Homo sapiens: one gene and its partners. The protein of the gene in region 3 purifies or fractionates together with the protein of the main gene of each other region. This does not show direct contact. Each region holds a gene or a part of one and is shown on either strand. Other genes may lie near its edges. The genes, in order: SULF1, CNTNAP1 and SYCN.

Region 1 (2,437 bases), on a different chromosome or scaffold from region 3:
TATTCCTTTGAGTACATATCCAGTAATGGGATTGCTGGGTCAAATGGTATTTCTGGTTCTAAATCTTTGAGGAATCACCACACTGTCTTCCACAATGGTTGAACTAATTTATACTCCCACCAGCAGTGTGAAAGCGTTCCTACTTCTCTGCAACCTTGCCAGCATCTGTTGTTTCTTGACATTTTAATAATCACCATTCTGACTGGCATGAGATGGTATCTCATTGTTCTACTTTCTTTTATGGTAATTTGATATAGATTTAGGTTCTTTTATTTCATGGATTTATACTATTTACAACCCTCCTGGTTTAAGAGAATTCTTTTCTGTGAGTGTAACTAAGTATACTTCCTCTTTACCTTTTTATTTTATTATTATTTGGGAGTGAAAGTGAGAGAGGTTGTGTGTCTTCCAACTTTTCGTATCTCTTTTTTCTTGCAGGATCTGAAATTTCCCATCTTTTGCTTCCTCTTTGTTTTACCACCCAGTTTCCAATGGCTGTTTCTCCCTTCTCTCTTCCTTTGTGTCCTTTTCTGCCCTAAGCAATGCCTCCCAGACTGCTGCCTTCAATCGTGCACAGGCACAAGGCTGGGACTTAGGGGTCCCATCCTCATTGTCAGTGCTGTGGCTCACCAGGAATCTTTACAGTATTTTATGCAAAAGATTGACGTTCTTTCCACCAACAGCCTCCAATCAATCTTTGACTCCACTGACACTTCCCTCTTCTCTCTTCCATACTGTTTTCCCAGAGCTTGTGGCCACAGTGTGACATTCAGCTCTGCTGGGATTTGGTGTCAACGTTTTTTATCTACACGTGATCTGAAGATTGTAGGATTCTCTATCTTCTAGCTAGACCGAGGTTGTGGGTTTGGTATAGTTTTGCTTATTCTTCTTGCTGGTCTGTATGGCTTTATGGGTGGTCATTGCACTCATCTAGGCCACCTCTTTCCAAATGGTACTTAGGCACAACTAGAGAACAAGTGTTATTTTCTGCAGGGCTACAGTCATCCTGGAGATGTAGAAAGATCTGAGAGAGAGAAAGCTGGTGCCTTCTTTGCATATGAGAAAGTCATTCAGTTATCTAAGGCACACATTTATCTAGGACATAGAACTTTCAGGGCAAAAACAACAATCAAAGAAATAAATCCAGGCATTTGATTTGAAGAGCTTAATTGCATTCAGATTTGCTTTTATACTGAGTGTTAGGGAATATAAAATAAAAATATCATACTAAGCATTGCCTATTACATTCAAATACTTTCAAATTTGTCATTCACCCAGCAACCTTATAAGTAGTAATGATTTTATCATACAACTATTTCTACACTTGACAGATGAGGGAGCAAGACTCAGAGGGACTCACTCACATGCTCTTCTGGTTGCAAAGTTGATTTGAGTGGGGCCAGGAGTGAAACCCAAATCCCCTGGCTGAAAGGACCGTGCCATTTTCAGCACTAACCATGCTTAGTCATAGATGTTTTCACGAATGTGATCTTTTTTTTCCCCAATTTTCTGTTGTTTAATCACCTGTAACCTAAGGCCACTCTGTGATAACAAATGACTAGGGGAAAATGCTTTTGAGTGTCATACTTCTCATTGATTAACTCTGTAAAAACAATGTAAGTTGCTTGTCCAGGTAAGTAGAAAGCCTTTTCTCCACTAATGATTCACCTTCTTCTCTCTTTTCACAGAGGACAGTTATGGGATGGATGGGAAGGTTAATCAGCCCCGTCTCACTGCAGACATCAACTGGCAAGGCCTAGAGGAGCTACACAGTGTGAATGAAAACATCTATGAGTACAGACAAAACTACAGACTTAGTCTGGTGGACTGGACTAATTACTTGAAGGATTTAGATAGAGTATTTGCACTGCTGAAGAGTCACTATGAGCAAAATAAAACAAATAAGACTCAAACTGCTCAAAGTGACGGGTTCTTGGTTGTCTCTGCTGAGCACGCTGTGTCAATGGAGATGGCCTCTGCTGACTCAGATGAAGACCCAAGGCATAAGGTTGGGAAAACACCTCATTTGACCTTGCCAGCTGACCTTCAAACCCTGCATTTGAACCGACCAACATTAAGTCCAGAGAGTAAACTTGAATGGAATAACGACATTCCAGAAGTTAATCATTTGAATTCTGAACACTGGAGAAAAACCGAAAAATGGACGGGGCATGAAGAGACTAATCATCTGGAAACCGATTTCAGTGGCGATGGCATGACAGAGCTAGAGCTCGGGCCCAGCCCCAGGCTGCAGCCCATTCGCAGGCACCCGAAAGAACTTCCCCAGTATGGTGGTCCTGGAAAGGACATTTTTGAAGATCAACTATATCTTCCTGTGCATTCCGATGGAATTTCAGTTCATCAGATGTTCACCATGGCCACCGCAGAACACCGAAGTAATTCCAGCATAGCGGGGAAGATGTTGACCAAGGTGGAG
Region 2 (3,654 bases), on a different chromosome or scaffold from region 3:
TTCTCCCCACCCCACAGGGACCCTTCAGCTGCGATATCAGCTGGGCACCAGTCCCTACGTGTACCAGCTAACCACTCGACCAGTGACCGATGGCCAGCCCCATAGCATCAATATCACCCGTGTTTACCGGAACCTCTTCATCCAGGTATGCATAGAGGGAGGTGAGCCAGTTCAGATCATAACCTCATGGTCTCCGTTGTGGCATCCAGGAAAACATCAAATACTTAATATTTGTAGATCACATTTGAATGTATAGAGGATTTTCACGTGTGTCACCTCATGTAACCCTCACAATAGCTCCAAGGGGACAATAGGCATTTTTTTTTTTTTTTTGAGATGGAATTTTGCTCTTGTTGCCCAGGCTGGAGTGCAATGGTGTGATCTCAGCTCACTGCAACCTCTGCCTCCCGGGTTCAAGCAATTCTTCTGCCTCAGCCTCCCGAGCAGCTGAGATTACAGGCATGCGCCACAACGCCCAGCTAATTTTGTATTTTTAGTAGAGACAGGAGTTCTCCATGTTGGTCAGGCTGGTCTCGAACACCCGACCTCAGATGATCCGCCTACCTCAGCCTCCCAAAGTGCTGGGATTATAAGCGTGAGCCACCGCGCCCAGCCAGACAATAGGCATTCTTATTTAAGTGTTTTACAAATCAGTAAAGAGCCTCAGAAAGTAAAGCGGTTTCAGCTACTCAGGAGGGTGAGGCAGGAAAATTGCTTGAACCTGGGAGGTGGAGGTTGCAGTGAGCTGAGATCGTGCCACTGCACTCCAGGCCTAGGCGACAGAGTGAGACTCCATCTCAAAAAAATAAAGTGGTTTACCCAAAGTCAAACCGCTGGTAAGCTGCAAAGATGGGGCTTAAAACCAGGGTTTTAAAAAATATATAGGCCAGGTGCAGCGGCTCACACCTGTAATCCCAACACTTTGGGAGGCTGAAGTGGGAGGACTGCTTGAGGCCAGGAGTTTGAGACCAACCTGAGCAACATAGCAAGACCTCATCTTCACAAAGAAAAATATTTAATAAATAAAATAAAATAATAATAATAAAAATATATATACCAAATCCTACATCTAGGCCCAGGGGTTGCCCACTTCAGATTGAGCTAGGACTCACCCAGCTGGCACCGCCAGTTTGGACAGAATGAGAGATCTCCAGTATCTGCCCCCAAGTATATTCCCAGGGTCCACACAGTTCCAGTCCAGCCCACAGGCATCTGCTTCTGGTCCCCGCTCCCTCATCGCCCTCCCCCTCCCCCTCCCCACCTCAGGTGGACTACTTCCCACTGACAGAGCAGAAGTTCTCGCTGTTGGTGGACAGCCAGTTGGACTCACCCAAGGCCTTGTATTTAGGGCGTGTGATGGGTAAGCTGCGGGTGCGGACGCGTTTTAGGCAAGGAGCTGTGGCATATGTTCCTGGATCCTCAAGGAAAGTGAAGGCCCTGGGAATGGCTGAGGGCAGTGGGAAGGATGAGTGGGAAACCTGTGGACAGTGAGAGTGGCAGGGCCTTTGGGTCCAAGTCCCTCTTTCTGGGCCTGCCTCTCTCTCAGAGACAGGAGTCATTGACCCGGAGATCCAGCGCTACAACACCCCAGGTTTCTCAGGCTGCCTGTCTGGTGTTCGATTCAACAACGTGGCTCCCCTCAAGACCCACTTCCGAACCCCTCGACCCATGACTGCTGAGCTAGCTGAGGCCCTTCGAGTTCAGGGAGAACTGTCCGAATCTAATTGCGGAGCTATGCCACGTCTTGTTTCAGAGGTGCCACCTGAGCTTGATCCCTGGTATCTGCCCCCAGGTACATTCCCAGGACACAGAGGACAGAAGGGAGGGATGACACGGAAGGGAATGATTCTTAACATGGAGGAGGCATCTCCTAACTGGTGCTTTCTCCTCTCCAGACTTCCCCTACTACCATGATGAAGGATGGGTTGCCATACTTTTAGGCTGTGAGTAGCACTGATCACTAAGCTGACCTCCCAAGACTACCCTCTGACTGTCAGCATCCTTTCCCTGCCCCTGATCCCCAAGGCTGCAGGATGGCAAAGGCACTAGATGCACAATGGCACAAAGGATGATGAGACAGGCTATGCTGAAGGTGCCATATAACTGGGCAGAGATTTTTAGATGTTTGAGGATGAGACAGGCTATGCTGAAGGTGACATATAACTGGGCAGAGATTTTTAGATGTTTGAGGATGCTACAGATTTTTAAATAAAATATTAAAATGAGACTATAGCTAAGGGATGGGAAAATGGGGATACAGTAACACCTAGAGAGATAAGAAATTGGGGTAACTACCAGGGATGTGGAAAGAGAATATTAGAAACAGAAGGTGGCAGGGGGTAAGCCAGGAATTCAAACCTGCCAGACACTTGAGATGAGTTTAGTGTGGTCGAACAGCTAACTGAGGGTCATACATTATGCTTTTGGCCAAAAGTAAATGTGTGTGTGTGTGTGTGTGTGTGTGTGTGTGTGTGCAGGTGAAATCCCAAAGTGTGTGTATGTATACAGGTGAAATCTCAAAGAGTGCGTGTGTGTGTGTGTGTGTGTGTGTGTGTGTGTGTATACAGGTGAGATCCCAAAGATCTGAATTGTCCCTTTTCTTCTTTTCAGTTTTGGTGGCCTTTCTGCTGCTGGGGCTGGTGGGAATGTTGGTGCTCTTCTATCTGCAAAATCATCGCTATAAGGGCTCCTACCATACCAATGAGCCCAAGGCTGCCCACGAGTACCATCCTGGCAGCAAACCTCCCCTACCCACTTCAGGCCCTGCCCAGGTCCCCACCCCTACAGCAGCTCCCAACCAAGCTCCAGCCTCAGCCCCAGCCCCAGCCCCAACTCCAGCCCCAGCCCCTGGCCCCCGGGATCAGAACCTACCCCAGATCCTGGAGGAGTCCAGGTCTGAATGAGTCAGAAGGGCTTCTGGGACCAATTCCAGCTCCTGACATTCCCCCAGTCCTGCCTCTCCCCCATCCTATCAGGGACATTTGGCTCCTCTTAGCTGGCTCTGCTCATCCAGAGGATATTCCCCCATCCCCCCCCCATCAAGTTTGGTGGGCAGAGCTACAGATGGGACCCAAGGGAGTGGCCGAGCCTCACTGCCTAAACCAATGCCCTTCTCATCCCTGTTTCCCCAGGCTCCTGGCTGTTTATCTGCCCCAAAGGAGAAGCCTCATGGGGTTGACATAGGTCCTTTCTGCCATCTCTGTTCCAGCTGCTGTCAGGGATTAACAACAGAGTGTAGGGGAGATTAACTGCCTCCCTTCCAATAGACACTATCAGCAGGGACAGATGTGTGGGAGTGCAGGGCTGCAGAGGGTATGGGGGGAGGAGGCTGCTAAACCCTATCCCCCAGCCTCCCCCCTGCCCTGAAGATCTTCCATTTGCTTCCACTCAGCTGGAGGCTCAAGAGGGCTTGATGGCTGTCCCCTGCCCCCCTCCTTTTGTTTTGTACACAGAGACCAAGAGGCCTCAGTTTAGCACCTTAGTACCTCCGCTGCTTCACTTGCTTTAGCCAAAGCCATAAAAAACCTGCAACGTAGAGAAAATAATGCAGATACCCTGACTAGCCAGCCCTCTACTCCTCCAACCTTTTCCAAGATATGCAATGGCCTTTGTGCCTGCCCAAAGGCTTCGCCCCCTCCAGTGCATGAGGAACCC
Region 3 (3,593 bases):
TCACTGCCAGCTCCGCCTCCAGGTTCAAGCCATTCTCCCGCCTCAGCCTCCCGAGTAGCTGGGACTACAGGCGCCCACCACCACGCCTGGCTAATTTTTTTGTATTTTTAGTAGATACGGGGTTTCACTGTGTTACCCAGGATGGTCTCAATCTCCTGACCTCGTGATCCGCCTGCCTCGGCCTCCCAAAGTGCTGGGATTACAGGCGTGAGCCACCGCACCCCGCCCTAATGTTTGTATTTTTAGTAGAGACGGGGTTTCACCATGTTTGCCAGGCTGGCCTTGAACTCCTGACCTCAGGTGATCCGCCCACCTCAGCCTCCCAAAGTGCTAGGATTACAGGCCTGAGCCACCACACCAGGGCTAAGGAAGGGCTATTACTGAAAAGGATGGGGCATGTTTCATATTTAACAATCAGCCCAAGGTTCCCCTGCAGTTCACTCACATGTCCTTCTGTGGGCGTGTGTCTTCGTGCACACCTAAAACCATGTCCGAGTCGATGGCGTGTCCTTATCCATGGCATTGTCCTGGGTATGGGCTGACCCAGGCCCAACCACCCTGCTGTCTCCTCCATCCCACCCGGTCCTTGCATCCCAGGGACAAGCAGATGACAGACGGGGACAACTGCACAAAGGCTGTATTGCAGGGGAGGTGGGAGGGGGCAGGCAGAACGCTCCTCCTCCTGGGTCTTGGGGCCCCGGAGCAGAGCCCAGGGATGGGCTGAGTGAGGGGCTTGGCACTCTGTGGAAGCTGCAGATGAGAGACCAGCAATGCATCAGCTGCACCTGAAATGTAATCAAGAATTCCTTCCAGGGGCTCTCAGAGACCCAGAGTCTGGTGAGTTCTAGAAGCCTGAGACTGGGTGGGGGCTGGGGAGTCTGGGTCTGAGGCTCCAAGTTCAGGAACCAGGGATCCTAGCCTGGGAGTTTGGAGCTGGGGGCTCCTTGGAGCTCTTGGGGGACAGGAGTGGCTGGGGAGGGTTTGGGAGGGTGTCACCGCTGGATCTAGGTCCCAGGTCTGTGAGTGCAAGGTGGCCTCAGGGACCTCCAGGGTTGGGTCTTGGGGGTGGGCTGTGGGACTGATTTTAGGGCTGAGGCTGGTCTGGAGGGTCTAGGGGAGTGGAGAGCATGAAGGCTACACTGGGTGTTCCTATAATCGAGTCTGGAGTCTTGAGGTCTGGGTTAGTTTTGGAGTCTGGGAGCTTTGAGATGTGATGATCTGGGGAGTGGGGGCTGGCTTTGGTTCTGGGGACTCCAGGGTGAGGGGGTCTAGGAGCTCTCAGTCCCCAGAATTAGCCAGCCCTCTCTGGGAAGTACAGCTGTGGGCGGGTGGGTAGGCGGAAGATTCCAGAAGGTGGAGGGTTGGCTCTGAATCTCAGAGCTGGGGCGGAAATCTCCGTCCCAGGGGCCTGGGCTGCAGGTGGAGTGGGGACCGGGTGCTGGGGGTGAGGAGAAGGAGGACCTGGTTTGGGTGAGGACTCTGAGATGGGGGCCTCCAGGACTGGTTCTAGGGAGGCCTGGTGCTCCCTGTTACAGTCGGGAGCTCAGGGGTGTGGAGCAGCCTCGGGGCTTGGGTGGTGGGTGTGGGGGCTTATGCGGAGCTGGGGCCTGGGCCTGGGGTGGGCTCGGAGCTTTGGGCGGCCGGGCACCTGCAGTAGAGCGCGGAGATAGCGTTGGACCAGTCTCCTAAGATGCCCCGGCGGTACTCCTCCAGGCGCGGGTAGGTGCCGGCAGAGAACTTGTGCGTCTTGCCCGCCTTGCCTTGCCGGGACCACACGGTGAGCTCGCAGCGCGGGGCCACCACAAGTGAGGAGGCGGTGTTGGCCCAGTTGGAGGGCAGGTAGGGCAGGTCTGCGCCCGACTCCAGCGACAGCTCGGCGCCCCCGCAGCAGTTCTCATAGTAGGGGTCGCTCTTGTCATAGAGCTTGGCGCAAGTGCGCGTCCCGTCCGAGTGCTTGAGGTCGGCGGAGGCGGGGCAGGCGCCCTGGGCGCAAGGCACGGAGGCAAGGGCCAGGGCCAGCAGCAGCGGGCGCAGCGGGGACATGGTGGCAGTGCCCTGCCGCAGCCCCGCGCGCTTTTATGCGCCCGACCCGTGGGAAGGGACAAGCTGCGAGATAAGGACTCATCGAGGGAAGGGGAGGGCGCCCCTCCCTCAGGAGCCGGGAGACCTGCCTAACCTAGGTCGGAAGCCCACAACCCTGAGTACAAGGTGGACGCTGTGTATACAACTTAGCACCTTAAGATGTTAGGTGACCAACAACATTATAAAGAGAGACAATAGACAGAACTTGAGGAGGAGTCATTTGCAACACAGAGGGTGGCATAGGTTAATAGACAGAAATGGGAAGAGCTCTTAAAAATTGACAAGGGGCTTGCTGGTTGCTCACGCCTGTAATCCCAGCACTTTGGGAGGCCTAGACGGGTGGATCGCTTGGGCCCAGGAGTTTGAGACCAGTCTGGGCAACATAGCAAGATCCCATCCCTACTGAAAAATAAAATTAGCTCAGCGTGGTGGCATGGCCTGTAGTCCCATCTACTCACAAAGCAGAGGCGGAAGGATCGCTTGAGCCCGGGAGTTCGAGGCTGCAGTGAGCCGAGATCGTTTCACTGCACTCCAGCCTGGGCAACAAAGACAGGAAAAAAAAGATAAGGAATGGAACAACCCTTATTCTAAATAAGGAAAGACTGGGAGGGGGAGGCAGGAGTGGGAGGCTGGGGCCTCCTGGCTGGGCAGGCTCCCTCCCTGGGAGGCAGGACCTTGGGAAAGGAGAAGCTGGAGATAAGGATAGAGGCCCTCGTGGTGGGGCGGGGGGGGGCAGGTAGAGAAGGAGATGGGGAGGAGCCCAACGCCCCACCCCCCACCCCCACCAGGCTCAGACTGGGCAATCTTCCCAACCAAGGCTGGCAATCCAGAATCTGTGAAGTACAAGATAGCAGTATTTGCATAACACGTTAAAAACCTTTTGCAAGACAGTGTACAAAGGCTTGAGGAGATATTTGCAACATTTCAAAAGCATAGCATTGCAAGCTATAATATATAAAGAGTGCACACAGGTTGGGCGCGGTGACTCACGCCTGTAATCACAATACTTTGGGAGACTGAGGCAGGTGGATCATTTGAGGCCAGGAGTTCGAGACCAGCCTGGCCAACATGATGAAACCCCGTCTCTACTTAAAGTACAAAAATTAGCCAGGCGTGGTGGCACATGCCTGTAGTCCCAGCTACTCGGGAGGCTGAGGGATGAGAATCACTTGAACCCAGAAGGTGGAAGTTGCAGTGAGCCGAGATCGCGTCAAAAAAAAAGAGTGCATACAAATTGACAAGAAATGCACTCCTCCCTCCCACATGCTAAGGACAGGCCTAGGAGAGGGAGAGGGAGGGAACAGCCTGCAACTCCCACCCCAGGAGCCAGGAGACTTTCTTAACTAAGGTTGGAAATCTTCAATCTATAAAACTTCAATCTTGTTTTATAGATTTTGAGCTGTATAAAACTGTAAAAACTGTCATATAGCAAAAACAAAACAAAACCCACAAACCCATCCAGGGAAAAATAGACTCAATTCCTATCATATAAAATGAGCTCTTACCAATCA

The links.
Region 1: the proteins of SYCN (region 3) and SULF1 purify together in Homo sapiens (affinity purification with mass spectrometry; one large-scale study listed by BioGRID and IntAct). This does not show direct contact.
Region 2: the proteins of SYCN (region 3) and CNTNAP1 purify together in Homo sapiens (affinity purification with mass spectrometry; one large-scale study listed by BioGRID and IntAct). This does not show direct contact.

The regions. Positions count from the first base shown.
Region 1 is NC_000008.11:69,656,817-69,659,253, forward strand, and holds part of SULF1 (extracellular sulfatase Sulf-1 isoform 1 precursor), read left to right. Parts: intron 1-1,688; coding exon 1,689-1,719; coding exon of another isoform or gene 1,720-2,437. UniProt on the Homo sapiens protein: Exhibits arylsulfatase activity and highly specific endoglucosamine-6-sulfatase activity. It can remove sulfate from the C-6 position of glucosamine within specific subregions of intact heparin.
Region 2 is NC_000017.11:42,696,008-42,699,661, forward strand, and holds part of CNTNAP1 (contactin-associated protein 1 precursor), read left to right. Parts: intron 1-17; coding exon 18-145; intron 146-1,266; coding exon 1,267-1,360; intron 1,361-1,546; coding exon 1,547-1,792; intron 1,793-1,895; coding exon 1,896-1,943; intron 1,944-2,610; coding exon 2,611-2,903; 3' UTR 2,904-3,654. UniProt on the Homo sapiens protein: Required, with CNTNAP2, for radial and longitudinal organization of myelinated axons. Plays a role in the formation of functional distinct domains critical for saltatory conduction of nerve impulses in myelinated nerve fibers.
Region 3 is NC_000019.10:39,202,212-39,205,804, forward strand, and holds SYCN (syncollin precursor), read right to left. Parts: upstream 2,053-3,593; 5' UTR 2,044-2,052; coding exon 1,649-2,043; intron 786-1,648; coding exon 776-785; 3' UTR 614-775; downstream 1-613. UniProt on the Homo sapiens protein: Functions in exocytosis in pancreatic acinar cells regulating the fusion of zymogen granules with each other. May have a pore-forming activity on membranes and regulate exocytosis in other exocrine tissues.